Linked DNA regions of Homo sapiens. The protein of the gene in region 3 interacts with the protein of the main gene of each other region in a pairwise test. Each region holds a gene or a part of one and is shown on either strand. Other genes may lie near its edges. The genes, in order: NRXN3, NTM and PAX4.

Region 1 (3,653 bases), on a different chromosome or scaffold from region 3:
CTAGAAGTTTACTCCTAGAGAAATATGCTTTGCCTTTTGTTTTTCAATCTTTCAAACACTTATATAACAACAATAATGTCCTGGCTACCATTTTAACTATTTTATGTGCATTTTTGGACTTGATCCTCAAAACAATATTGGGAGGTAGGAGTTATTATTTTCTCTATCTTACAAAGGAGGAAGTTGAGGTCTCTATCTCTTACTATTTTCTCTGTTGCATAGTTTTCTTTCTTTACCCCTCACAGGTCCACAGGGCTAATCTGATCACCAACTAAAATGGGGAGACATCTATTGCCAAGTAAAGACAATACTAGAATCAATTTAAATTTTAGAGCCTTAAATACAACCTGAGGAAAATCTGTTCTCTGAATGTGTGACCATAACAGTTTTGAATGCACTTAACAAGTTCTAAGACTGACTTGCCCAAGTGAGGAGTGATCATAAAAGTTTTTCTAGATCACTGTTTGTTATATTATTCTTCAAGATTATCAGGGAAGGAGGCACCACATTTAGATACACTTGTTTTTATAACTATCCTTTAGTATAGATTTATAATCTAAAACAAGTTACCAGAAAACATTCTCATGAAAAAATGAAAGTTTAACAGACTGTATTAAAATTTTAGATTATACTGCTTTCATGGGACAATTGTTTGTTTACTCAGTAAGTTTTTAATAGGCTTTGATCAAATTCATCAGTAGTTCAAAAAACTGGCCAGGCCTGGCACAGTGGCTTACTCCTGTAATCCCAGCACTTTGGGAGGCCGAGATGGGTTGATCATCTGAGGTCAGGAGTTCGAGATTGGCCTGGCCAACATGGTGAAACCCTGTCTCTACTAAATAGACAAAAATTAGCTGGGCTTGGTGGAGGGTGCCTGTAATCCCAGCTACTTGGGAGGTAAGGCAGGAGAATCACTTGAACCTGGAAGGTAGAGTTTGCAGTGAGCCGAGACTGCGCCATTGCACTCCAGCCTGGGCAGCAAGAGAGAAACTCTGTCTCAAAAAAAAAAAAAAAAAAAAAAAAGAGAAAAGAATTAGCCAGTGCTTTAGCTCCCAGGTATGAAATTTAAGACTTCTGAAATTCAAACATATTTGTTGAAGTTGGGTCCACTGGTGGTTTAAACAACAAAAACTGTTCCCCTTTGTTCAAAATTGTTTGAAAGAAAAATTTGTATTAGGAACAGACAGAAATGAACAAATGGCAATTTTGTGTGTTTTAGCCTGCCTGAGACACGGGTAAGGTAACTTTTATGCTGTGCCAAGGTCTAGGTTAGTCAGACACAAAACCCGTCCACCGTGACCTAACCTCAGAGATCCCAAACACATGCTCTTAAAAACCAACAGCAGTGTTTTCTTTATAATTCTGGAACAGCTTTCTGACTCTGCTCTTGCTGTCATTTTACTGAAAAGCAGAGAAGGAGAAAGAAAAGAAGAAGAAGAAGTATGGGGGGTGTGGCGGGATTTAGCCTCCAAAGAAATTAATTTTTTGGGTGTTTTTCTGTGTAAAAGGGTAGACACTATTCATTCTTGCTTAACGAGCACATTTAATTTGAAGGCTCTTGGTTCTGATCAGATTTCAGACAACCAGTAAAGATTCCTACTGGGCAATAAAATAGCCAGGGCTGCAATCTGCCACCCATCTGCCCTCTGCAAAGAACCCATCCAGCTCTTCCTAAGGGCAATATTGCTATCTCTGCCGTCAGCCTAGCTTTGGAATTATGCAGAAAAGCCAACCCACCAAAGCTCAGTCACTCCCAGTTTCAGCCTTTTGGGGAACTTATTGCTCTCTCTTACTGGCCAAATGTACCTAGAAAGAAAATATCCAAATAGAGACTTTTTAATGTTCATCAGGAAAGTGAATCTCTATAAATATGGCACATGAAGCCAAGACCCTTCTTGAGTACATCCTACCTAAATGGAGAATCAGGAAATGAGTCTGAAATGGCAAATGCTCTAATTACTGCTCTTGGGAAAATGCCCTTTCTGATAGCACAGAATGTGACCTTCATTGCCACATGGTCCATAGAAAGCTAGGCAGACTGTCCAGGCATTCAAAAACCCCTGACTATTTTGCCCCACCCCCACCCCCACTTTGTTACTATTCCATAGTAGCTATGTACTGCCTGGGGCTAGCTTGTTTGATCTGCAGCTGCAGAAACAAAGCCATTTAAACAAAATGTAAAAGGTTATGAAGAGGAAGAGAGAGTTAGTGAGGTCTGAACAAAGAGTGAAATATAGGCTTTTACACCAAAGGAAGGCTTTAAATTGAATGTATCTTCAGGAAAAATCAATTTGCCTTTTCCTTTCTTGTCATAATTTCTCCATGCAACATGACTCTTGCCAATTACTGAAGGGTGTATTGTTGCATAAATTCTTGCACAGTGAAGTTTATCCTACAAAATAATCACATAATGCAGCATCTGTGATGTCACAATCGGTTTCCATGGTGATGAGGAAAAAGAGAAGCAAAGAATGGGGCAATGGGGGCGGATCACACCAGTGACATGAGAGTTGCTCTGGTAGCAGTGGAAATGCTACTTGTAAAACCATCCTTAGCTCCAGGATCGTAGAGCTATCACTGAGACAATTGCGCAGTGAGTGACAAGAGAGATAAGCGGAGAATGTGAGCCATCTATGAGACAGGTATCTTTTCAGAAACATAATTTTACAACAGCCATTAAAGAGAGTAGCAAAAGAATCAACAAGCATGCAAGGGTGAAAATTAAGAAACATAAAGCCAAAAAACAAACTGAGAAGCTACAGCTTTCGTCTAGTCTCAGTCACACATCCTGCCTCTTCCTACCTGATCTGCCATCTCGCTGAATGTCCACATGGTACCATTCCCCATCATTGGCTTTCTTCTGAGTGGCTTTCACTTTGATGGTGCCAGAGCCCATGTCAAGCAGCAAGTACAGGTTGCCATCGAGGAGTTCCACGGCAAAGAAGTCTACTTTTGTATTCTTCTGGCTCCGAGCATCCTTCCTCTCTTGGGGCTTTCCATGAGTGAAGAGGATCAGGCCATTGGGCTCTGTGGTGCGGAAGTCAAAGGAGATGGAGCCCATACGTTTAGTGTTCCACTTGGGCAAGCTGATGTAAGCCTCTGGGGTCTCAAAGTTGATGGGGTCCAGTGTGGCCACATTCTCACACTTAAACACAACTTCGCCATAGATTTTCATCTTGGTGTCCGCAATCCGGGCCAGGCGAGACAGCTCCAGACGGATGTCATTATTCTTATAAACAACCTGTCAAAAGCCAAACAAAAGTGCCATGTGAATCAATCTTGCAAACAGTATCCATCCATCACTCACTGGGCACCTGGAAAAATGACCCAAAAAGAGGCTTCAGGACATAGCCCAAAACAACATGAGAAACAATGAGACACAGGAACCAAAAAGGTATCTGAAGAAACATCTGATGTGCACACAAGCTCCAAAAAAGCCTCTATATTTCTACAGAATTTCTTTTGTCTCCTGGCCAATTTCTTGTGTTGTCAGAAAGTTATACAACATAAGCTTGCAAATAAAAATCAAGAGAGATCGAGTTGCATGGATTCACATACTTCATACAAAGTGATTTACTGAAGCACCCTTAGTAAAATACCAGAAACAACCTAAATGACCATCAATAGCAGATGGCACAGCGTTATAATGGAAT
Region 2 (4,358 bases), on a different chromosome or scaffold from region 3:
TCAAGGCATAGTAGGGGTATGAATGTGTCAGAATTAGCTAAGGAAGGTTCTGTGAGAAACTACATTTTCTTTTTCTTTTCTTTTTTTTTTTTTTTTTTCTTGAGACAGGGGCTGGCTCTGTCACCCAGACTGGATTGTAGTGGCGCCATCTTGGCTTACTGTGATCTCCGCCTCCCAGGCTCAAGCAATTCTCCTGCCTCAGCCACCCAAGTGGCTGGAACCACGGGTGCGCACCACCAAACCCAGATATTTTTAAGGAATTTTTTAGTAGAGATAGGGTTTCACCATGTTGCCCAGGCTGGTCTCGAATTCCTGAGCTCAGGCTACTGGCCTTCCTTGGCCTCCCAAAGTTGTGGGATTACAGGCGTGAGCCACAGTGCCCAGCCAGGAGCTACATTTTCTAGATTTTTTGTTCACATCCTCTAACTTGCTTCTCATAAGGGGAAGCCAAAGATTAGAATAAACTTCCAGGCCCTAGAATTAGACCTCTTAAGAAATCATTTATGTCCATTAGATTATTTCTGTTCGGTTTTTATTCTTTCCTATCACCAAGGAGGTTAATGTCTTCAACTGTCTGAGGAACTACACAAAGTTTACACTCAGAAAGCCCCTCCGCATGTCTACCCTGAATCTTTCTCGCTGCAGTTTAAATCACAGATGCTTCTATGATTGCTTTAGTGGATGTGGATTGACCAAGTCATGGGGAATAAACTCCTGCTTTGTTTTCTTTTGAAGAAGGTTCTCCATCTTCAGACTATAGAGCTTCTTCTCAAATACCAGGTACTTTGTACCTTTCCATTGTATCATATACACATGGATGAATTTAGGAAATTGACTTCTAAAAAGTGAATGAAAAAGAGGAGTAACATAGATGTTCTGAAACAGAAGTGACAGGAGGAGAAAATAGAAAGTTATTTACTATTTTCAAAGCAACTAAGTAGAAAGGTTGATGAAAGAGAGAAAAAAAAGCTGTCACTGAATGATATTTCCATTGGAGGGGAAAATAGGTACCAACAAATGAAAATTGCCTCATCTTTACAAGTTTCACTGAGCATGAAAATGTCCCTTTAAAATTTCCCATAAGCCATGGCTGGCTATGGGATTTTTCCAGTGCAAAGGGAATCTGAGTTCAGGAGGCCAGGGAATGCCAGGGGGAAAGGGATTTTCTGATACTCAGAAGACTCAGAGACTGTCAGTTTAAAAAATGAAAGTAATATAGAAGGGGCAAAGTGGCATTTATCATTCTATCTCTCCAGGCTCCTGTCTCTTTAATCAGCTAGCCTGATTTGCCCAGTAAATGATTCCTGAGAGTGTGTGTGCGTGTGTGTGTGTGTGTGTGCCCGCGCGCGTGTGTTGTAGCTCTGTCAATCCTTGGATTAGAACCAATGATTGCAGCTTGTAGGAGGGCTGTCCAGGGCCAGATTGTACAATGTGTCTCAGTGCCAGAGTATGAGTGGAGATAATTACGGAGAAGTCATACTCTCTCACACCCTCGGCTTTCTTGTTGTGTCCTTCAGCAAAACAGTGGATTTAAATCTCCTTGCACAAGCTTGAGAGCAACACAATCTATCAGGAAAGAAAGAAAGAAAAAAACCGAACCTGACAAAAAAGAAGAAAAAGAAGAAGAAAAAAAATCATGAAAACCATCCAGCCAAAAATGCACAATTCTATCTCTTGGGCAATCTTCACGGGGCTGGCTGCTCTGTGTCTCTTCCAAGGTAAGAGCTTGCTATTGATTTGCCTTCGGTAGACCCAGGAATTGTACAGTGTGCTTTATAAGATTTGCAGACTCCCCGAGTCGGCTGTGCTGCGCTGTTTGCAGGTGGAGGAGAGAGCGTTTAGACAGCATGGCTGGGACTTCATTCTCCCGACTAGGCTGTGAGAATATTGATTTGATTCTGGCTGCTACCGGAATGGGGGAATATGTATGTGCATAAGTAAAATGTGTTTGGTGCTCCTGTTAGGACTGTGCTTGTGTGCAAGGCTCCCTGGCTTCATGCACATTCTTGCACACATACACAACGGAGCACACATGTAAGCAGGGGGAAATGACAGATTCGGAGGGCAACAGGGTTGCTAATGTGTTGCTTATGCGACTGGGAAGAAATTACAAGAGGAAACTTTAAATATCGGCCAGCGAACTTGCAAAGCTTTTAAAAGGAGCAAAGGGGAAAATGCAGGCTAGAAAGAATCAGGTGCTTCCTGTGAGGTTCTGGTCAGCGATCCAGCTGCAAGGGATGAGTCAATTTGCAGCAGTGGGGGACAACTGTATTAGTTTTAAATGTGTTCGGGGGTGTGTTTGTGGCTGGGGTCGGAGGTGTGGAAGCGAGGGGAGCCGGGGCTCTGAAATTCTAAAAAGCTTTTCGAAGTTGAAGGGAGAGAGGCAATAAGAGTCGAATGCTAATTTTCTGTTTATTTATCGGCTGAGCCGGGAGCCCTGGGGGCTGCAGTTGAGTGCAAGCTTTGATGTCCCCAGTGCTGTGTTCTGTGCATTTGGAATCGGCCTCCACCTTGAGTCCATTTGCTGCACCGTGCCTCCCCACACCCCATCCCGGCTCTCACGTCTGTTCGTTCCAGCAACAGAATTATCCACTAATCTTCTTGCTCCCACCTGCCCTGTCCTTTGGGGTAACTAGTTTGCCTCTTTTATATTAAACACAGCTAAAACTCGTAAGGATCGAGACAAGCTGAGAAACTTTCCCAGGGTGGCCCAGCAGGGCTCCGGGAGGAGGAGCCCTCTCTTGGGAGGTGAGGCTCAGTCCTATGCAGTTGTATTCCCAGAGGAAAGTTCCCTCTGACCCGGTGAAAAACGATGGGGAGTCCCACCCCCTCGCCCTCTTCTCCCCCTGCAATATGGAGTTCTCCTGATCTGGACTGAGTCCTGAGCTGTAGTCCTGCTGGCTCTTCTCCGAGGTTAGGATTTAGGGATTGCTGCTGTCCTCTTGACATAGGTTGCAGTGGCTGCAGTGTGGATCCACGTAAGGTGGGCAGAGAGACCAGGCTGGAAGGATCAAATGTGTACACCCTTGACTGGGGCTCGATGAAGAAGGCAAGGGGTGGGGACAGGAGGGATCTGTGTCGGGTGATAAGGAAGTCCAAGGTGGTGAATCTTGCAGGGATGTCCATGATGTCGTCTGCTGCACCCAACCCCAGGAGGCATGGGCCTCAGGATTCCCTGCTGTCCCCTAGGGGCTTTGGTGGGTGTTTGAGTGAAGGGAATCAACTTGGAGGCATCCTCGATTGACTCCTCTTATATAATATGAAGCAGTATCAGTGTGTGTGTGTGTGCGTGCGTGTGTGTGCACCCCTGCTTGTTCTGGGTGCACAAGAATGAAGTGGGGAAGCTGAGTTCAGGATCGGGCAGTTTCGGAAAAGCAGTTTCTGTGGGGGTTGACAGCAAAAATGAAAACTAAGCAGGCAAGGGGTAGGGTGAGGGGTCAGAGGTAGGGAGAGGGAAGGTCCCAAGCCCTCAGTCATTTCTATCTGTCCCGAGATCCATGTCTCTTCTGCCTGTAACATCAAACTGGAGACAATGACCAAACTTCCACCATCAACAGCCCTGCTGGCTGCATGCCAGGAGCCCCAGGGCCATACTGAATTTACATATAAATTAGCATACGTGATTTTTTTTTTCATCAGAATAAATGCAGGGAAGCATAATATTTGCTCATACTTTGAATCATCTCTGAATAGATGAGTAGCAAAGTGGTGGTGCCAATTTCTCTAAGGTGCCATCTGACTTTGTGGTCTTGTTCCTAACTTGGGGTAGGGGTGGTGGCGACAGCACTATCTCAGACCTTATCACATTCTACCGAATCCGGAATTTCTCAAAAAGAATGATGGCCTTATTTGTGCTACCCTCACCCAGTCAGCCCTGAACAGGCTTCAGTGGTCGTAATAGAACAAGGTTGCCCAATTTTAACGCAGAACGACCCCCAAAGACCCGCATATTGCATGCCAGTCAGATGTGGCAAAGGTGATGTCTGTTTTCTCTTTCAGAGGAAGGAAGCTGAAGTCTGCCAGCTATCTCTTATCAAACTTGCAGAATTACTGAGGCAGCCCAGGTCTTGCCTGCAATAATCCACCCCTATTGCATTGACCCAGTGGGACTAGTTAGAATGCAGCACACATTCCAAGGCGATTTTTTCTTCTCCTCTGTTTTTGTTTTAAGCTGGTTCTTCCTAGAGCTGCTGCTTCCTGTGCCTCCTGCCTCTTGAAAAGGTGTCTGGTGCTAATGGCAGGTTAGGAACCCCTCCCTGACCTGCTCCTCCCCACAACCCAACCAGCAACCAAGATCCAGCTTAGGTAGGGAGGGGGGTTTCTGAGGGAATCAGCACTGATTAGTGACGCTGACAGGA
Region 3 (2,829 bases):
CAGCTTGAAAGTATAGAAGGCAAGGCAGGGGCAAGATGTGCTCTATTACCCTTGAAATTTCATTCTAGAGCTGTGCAGTCCCATAGAACTTTCTGCAATGACTGAAATGCTCGATAGTCCTTACAAGCCACATGTAACTACTGAGCATTTGAAATGTGGCTAATGTGAGTGAAGAACTGCATTCTTCTTTTTTTTTTAATGTGAATTACATTTAAATAGTCACATGTGGTTGGTGGCTACTTATTTAACAGCACAGTTCAGCACAGCACAGTATTTGATAATGAAGAGGCCTCTTGAATGACGTCTTCTGGATCAGTACCTATCCCAGATAGGAGTAAACAATGCCCCCACCTCCCCGCCCGCCGACCAGCATTGCACCATCATTATCCATCGCCTGACTTTCAAAAGGGAAAGAATTTGGAAGGATGAGCCTATCCTCCTTGCTGAATATCCGATTCTTCACCGCCTTTCCCCCATATTCCTCCCTTTCTCCACATCCTGAGACTTCTCAGGAAGGGCCTAGACCTTTATTTGAAGGGACAGAATTGAGAAGGTTTGGAACTTACTGCCAAAAGGACCAAGCAAACATGCCCCTGGAGCATGTATAAATAAAGCACATATAAATGGAAAGCAGAATATGAAAAATGGCATTTCACTCTGTTTGCTGCTATGACAAAAATACATATGCAAATACAAAATACATATGCAAATACAAAATACATATGACAAAATACATATGACAAAAATACATAATTTTCTTAGATTAAGAAGTTACAGTAAATTTTCTTAGATGTGGATATATTATTGTGATTATGTAAGACAAGTTTCTTGTTTTTTGGGGATGCATGCTGGAAGATTTAGGAATAAAATGCCATGATATAATGTCAGTGTGTGTGTGTGTGTGTGTGTGTGCGCGCACGCATGCACGCATACATAATACACATATAGATGCATACATAGAGTAGGTAAATTGATGCATTGACAAATACATTGTTTAGATACATGTATTGCCTACATACATGCATAGATTAGATGGTAGATACATAGATGTAAATAAATGATAGGGCAAATTGTCTATAATTGTTGAATATTAGAGTGGGCATAGGGGTGCTCATAGGGAAAACATGATGGACAACAGAACTACTGCTAATAAAAACAGCTTTTATTACTGCTGAGTGGAGGCCTCTTAAGGCTAGTGTGAGAAGTGGGTGGGTGTTGCTTTACCAGCCCCTCCAATCAGGTGATGCGCCAGAGAGGCATCGAGGCAGGGCCAGGCAACGTCCACACAGGAGGGAGCAATCACAGGAAGGAGGAAGGAGCCACAGTCTGTATGGGCAGGACGGTAAGGACAATGGGCAGGATGGTATTAGATCTTCTCTATGCCATCTCCTTCCCACTCCTGCCTCATTCCAAGCCATACAGTAGTGGGCAGCCAGGCCAGAGCAGGGCCTGAGAGCCACTAAGACTGGCCAGGTGACAGTGGGAGGAAGGGCAAGGAAGGCAAAGCAGTCCTGAGTCCAGGGAATTCGGCTGTGGGGGCAAGTGGCCTGTGGGGACAAATAGAGAGAGCTTGGGGTTATTGCTCCCACCCCACCTCTCAAAGTCACTATGGGAGAGAGGCTGAGACATCAGTTTCCCACCCTGCATATACACACTTGAATCCCAGTCTCACATCCTTTACCTGCTATGGCTGTCAGTGATACCATAGACTCAGGGGTTACTAGTCTCCGTAATTTTGTGGACCATGCAAAGAATGAGGAAAGCTGTATTGAGATTCCTTTGATGACCCCCAATGGAGATCCATGCCCTCCTGGAGGTTGAGTCAGTCGACCCTCCCTACATCCTGCAGGACTGAGGCCTGGCCTGAATTCTTACCCCAGCAGGGCTTGAGACAGGCTTTAGGTGGGGTGTCACTCAGACACCTTTCTGGTGCTGTTGCCCAGCACAGCTGATAGCAGGAGGGACCCAGTGGTTCCAGGGCAGGCAGGGCTGCTGTGGGCACACTGCCAGGGGACTGCTAAAAAAAAAAAGCAAGAGAAGAACCTTAGCTTCCAGTGATGCCTCCTGTAGAGAACGCCGGGACCCCAGAGCTGCCTGCCACCCAAGTAGTATCCTGCACAACTCCAGAGGGCACCATTCACATAGTAGACTTTGGGTTAGTACTTTCTTGACATGAACACTGTGGGGCCCTGGAGAGCCGGAGATCCTGGCTCAGGCCAGAAATGGAAGAGCCCATGAGCCCTTCAGTCTTCCCAGGGCACAGACTCCCCTCTCCTCCCGAGTACCTGTGCAGAGATGATTCCTGGGGCAACCCTTGGTACAGTCAGCCCCTGGGAAGCACCTATAAAATGAGAGTGAATCCACTCAGAAGGAGGAATTGGGGTTAGGGACGGGAGGAGTGTGGTGAGAGGCAGGAAGGTTGGATACAAAGAGGTTCTAGGAAAGTCAGCCACTTCTTGCAGGGGTGTGAAGAGATGGATATTTTAACCCAAAACTGTCCTCTTCCCCAAGACAGGTCCTTGGGAAACTGGAGAAGAATGATTAAATTCCAGTGATGGTACTGGGGACAGTGCAGCCTTAAGATCCGGGACTGTGTGTGCCCAGCATCTAGCACAGGGTCTGGCACTGGGGAGATGCTGAGTAAATATTGGATGGATGGGTGGATGGATGCACAGATTAATGGAAAGATGGATGGATGGATGGATGCATGGGTGCATGGGTGGCTGGATGGATGCATGGGCGGATGCATGGGTGGATGGATGGATGAATGCATGAGCAGATGCATGGATGGATGCATGAATGAATGGGTGGATGGATGGATGGATGGAT

Evidence for each region.
Region 1: the proteins of PAX4 (region 3) and NRXN3 interact in a two-hybrid assay, tested with the Homo sapiens proteins (one large-scale study listed by BioGRID).
Region 2: the proteins of PAX4 (region 3) and NTM interact in a two-hybrid assay, tested with the Homo sapiens proteins (one large-scale study listed by BioGRID).

The regions. Positions count from the first base shown.
Region 1 is NC_000014.9:78,708,805-78,712,457, reverse strand, and holds part of NRXN3 (neurexin 3), read right to left. Parts: exon of another isoform or gene 3,242-3,653; coding exon 2,803-3,241; exon of another isoform or gene 2,498-2,802; intron 1-2,497. UniProt on the Homo sapiens protein: Neuronal cell surface protein that may be involved in cell recognition and cell adhesion. May mediate intracellular signaling. Functions as part of a trans-synaptic complex by binding to cerebellins and postsynaptic GRID1.
Region 2 is NC_000011.10:131,369,171-131,373,528, forward strand, and holds the start of NTM (neurotrimin isoform 9 precursor), read left to right. Parts: upstream 1-1,444; 5' UTR 1,445-1,636; coding exon 1,637-1,718; intron 1,719-4,358.
Region 3 is NC_000007.14:127,609,660-127,612,488, forward strand, and holds the end of PAX4 (paired box protein Pax-4), read right to left. Parts: intron 2,342-2,829; coding exon 2,286-2,341; intron 2,018-2,285; coding exon 1,876-2,017; intron 1,548-1,875; coding exon 1,405-1,547; 3' UTR 1,327-1,404; coding exon of another isoform or gene 1,193-1,326; 3' UTR 633-1,192; downstream 1-632.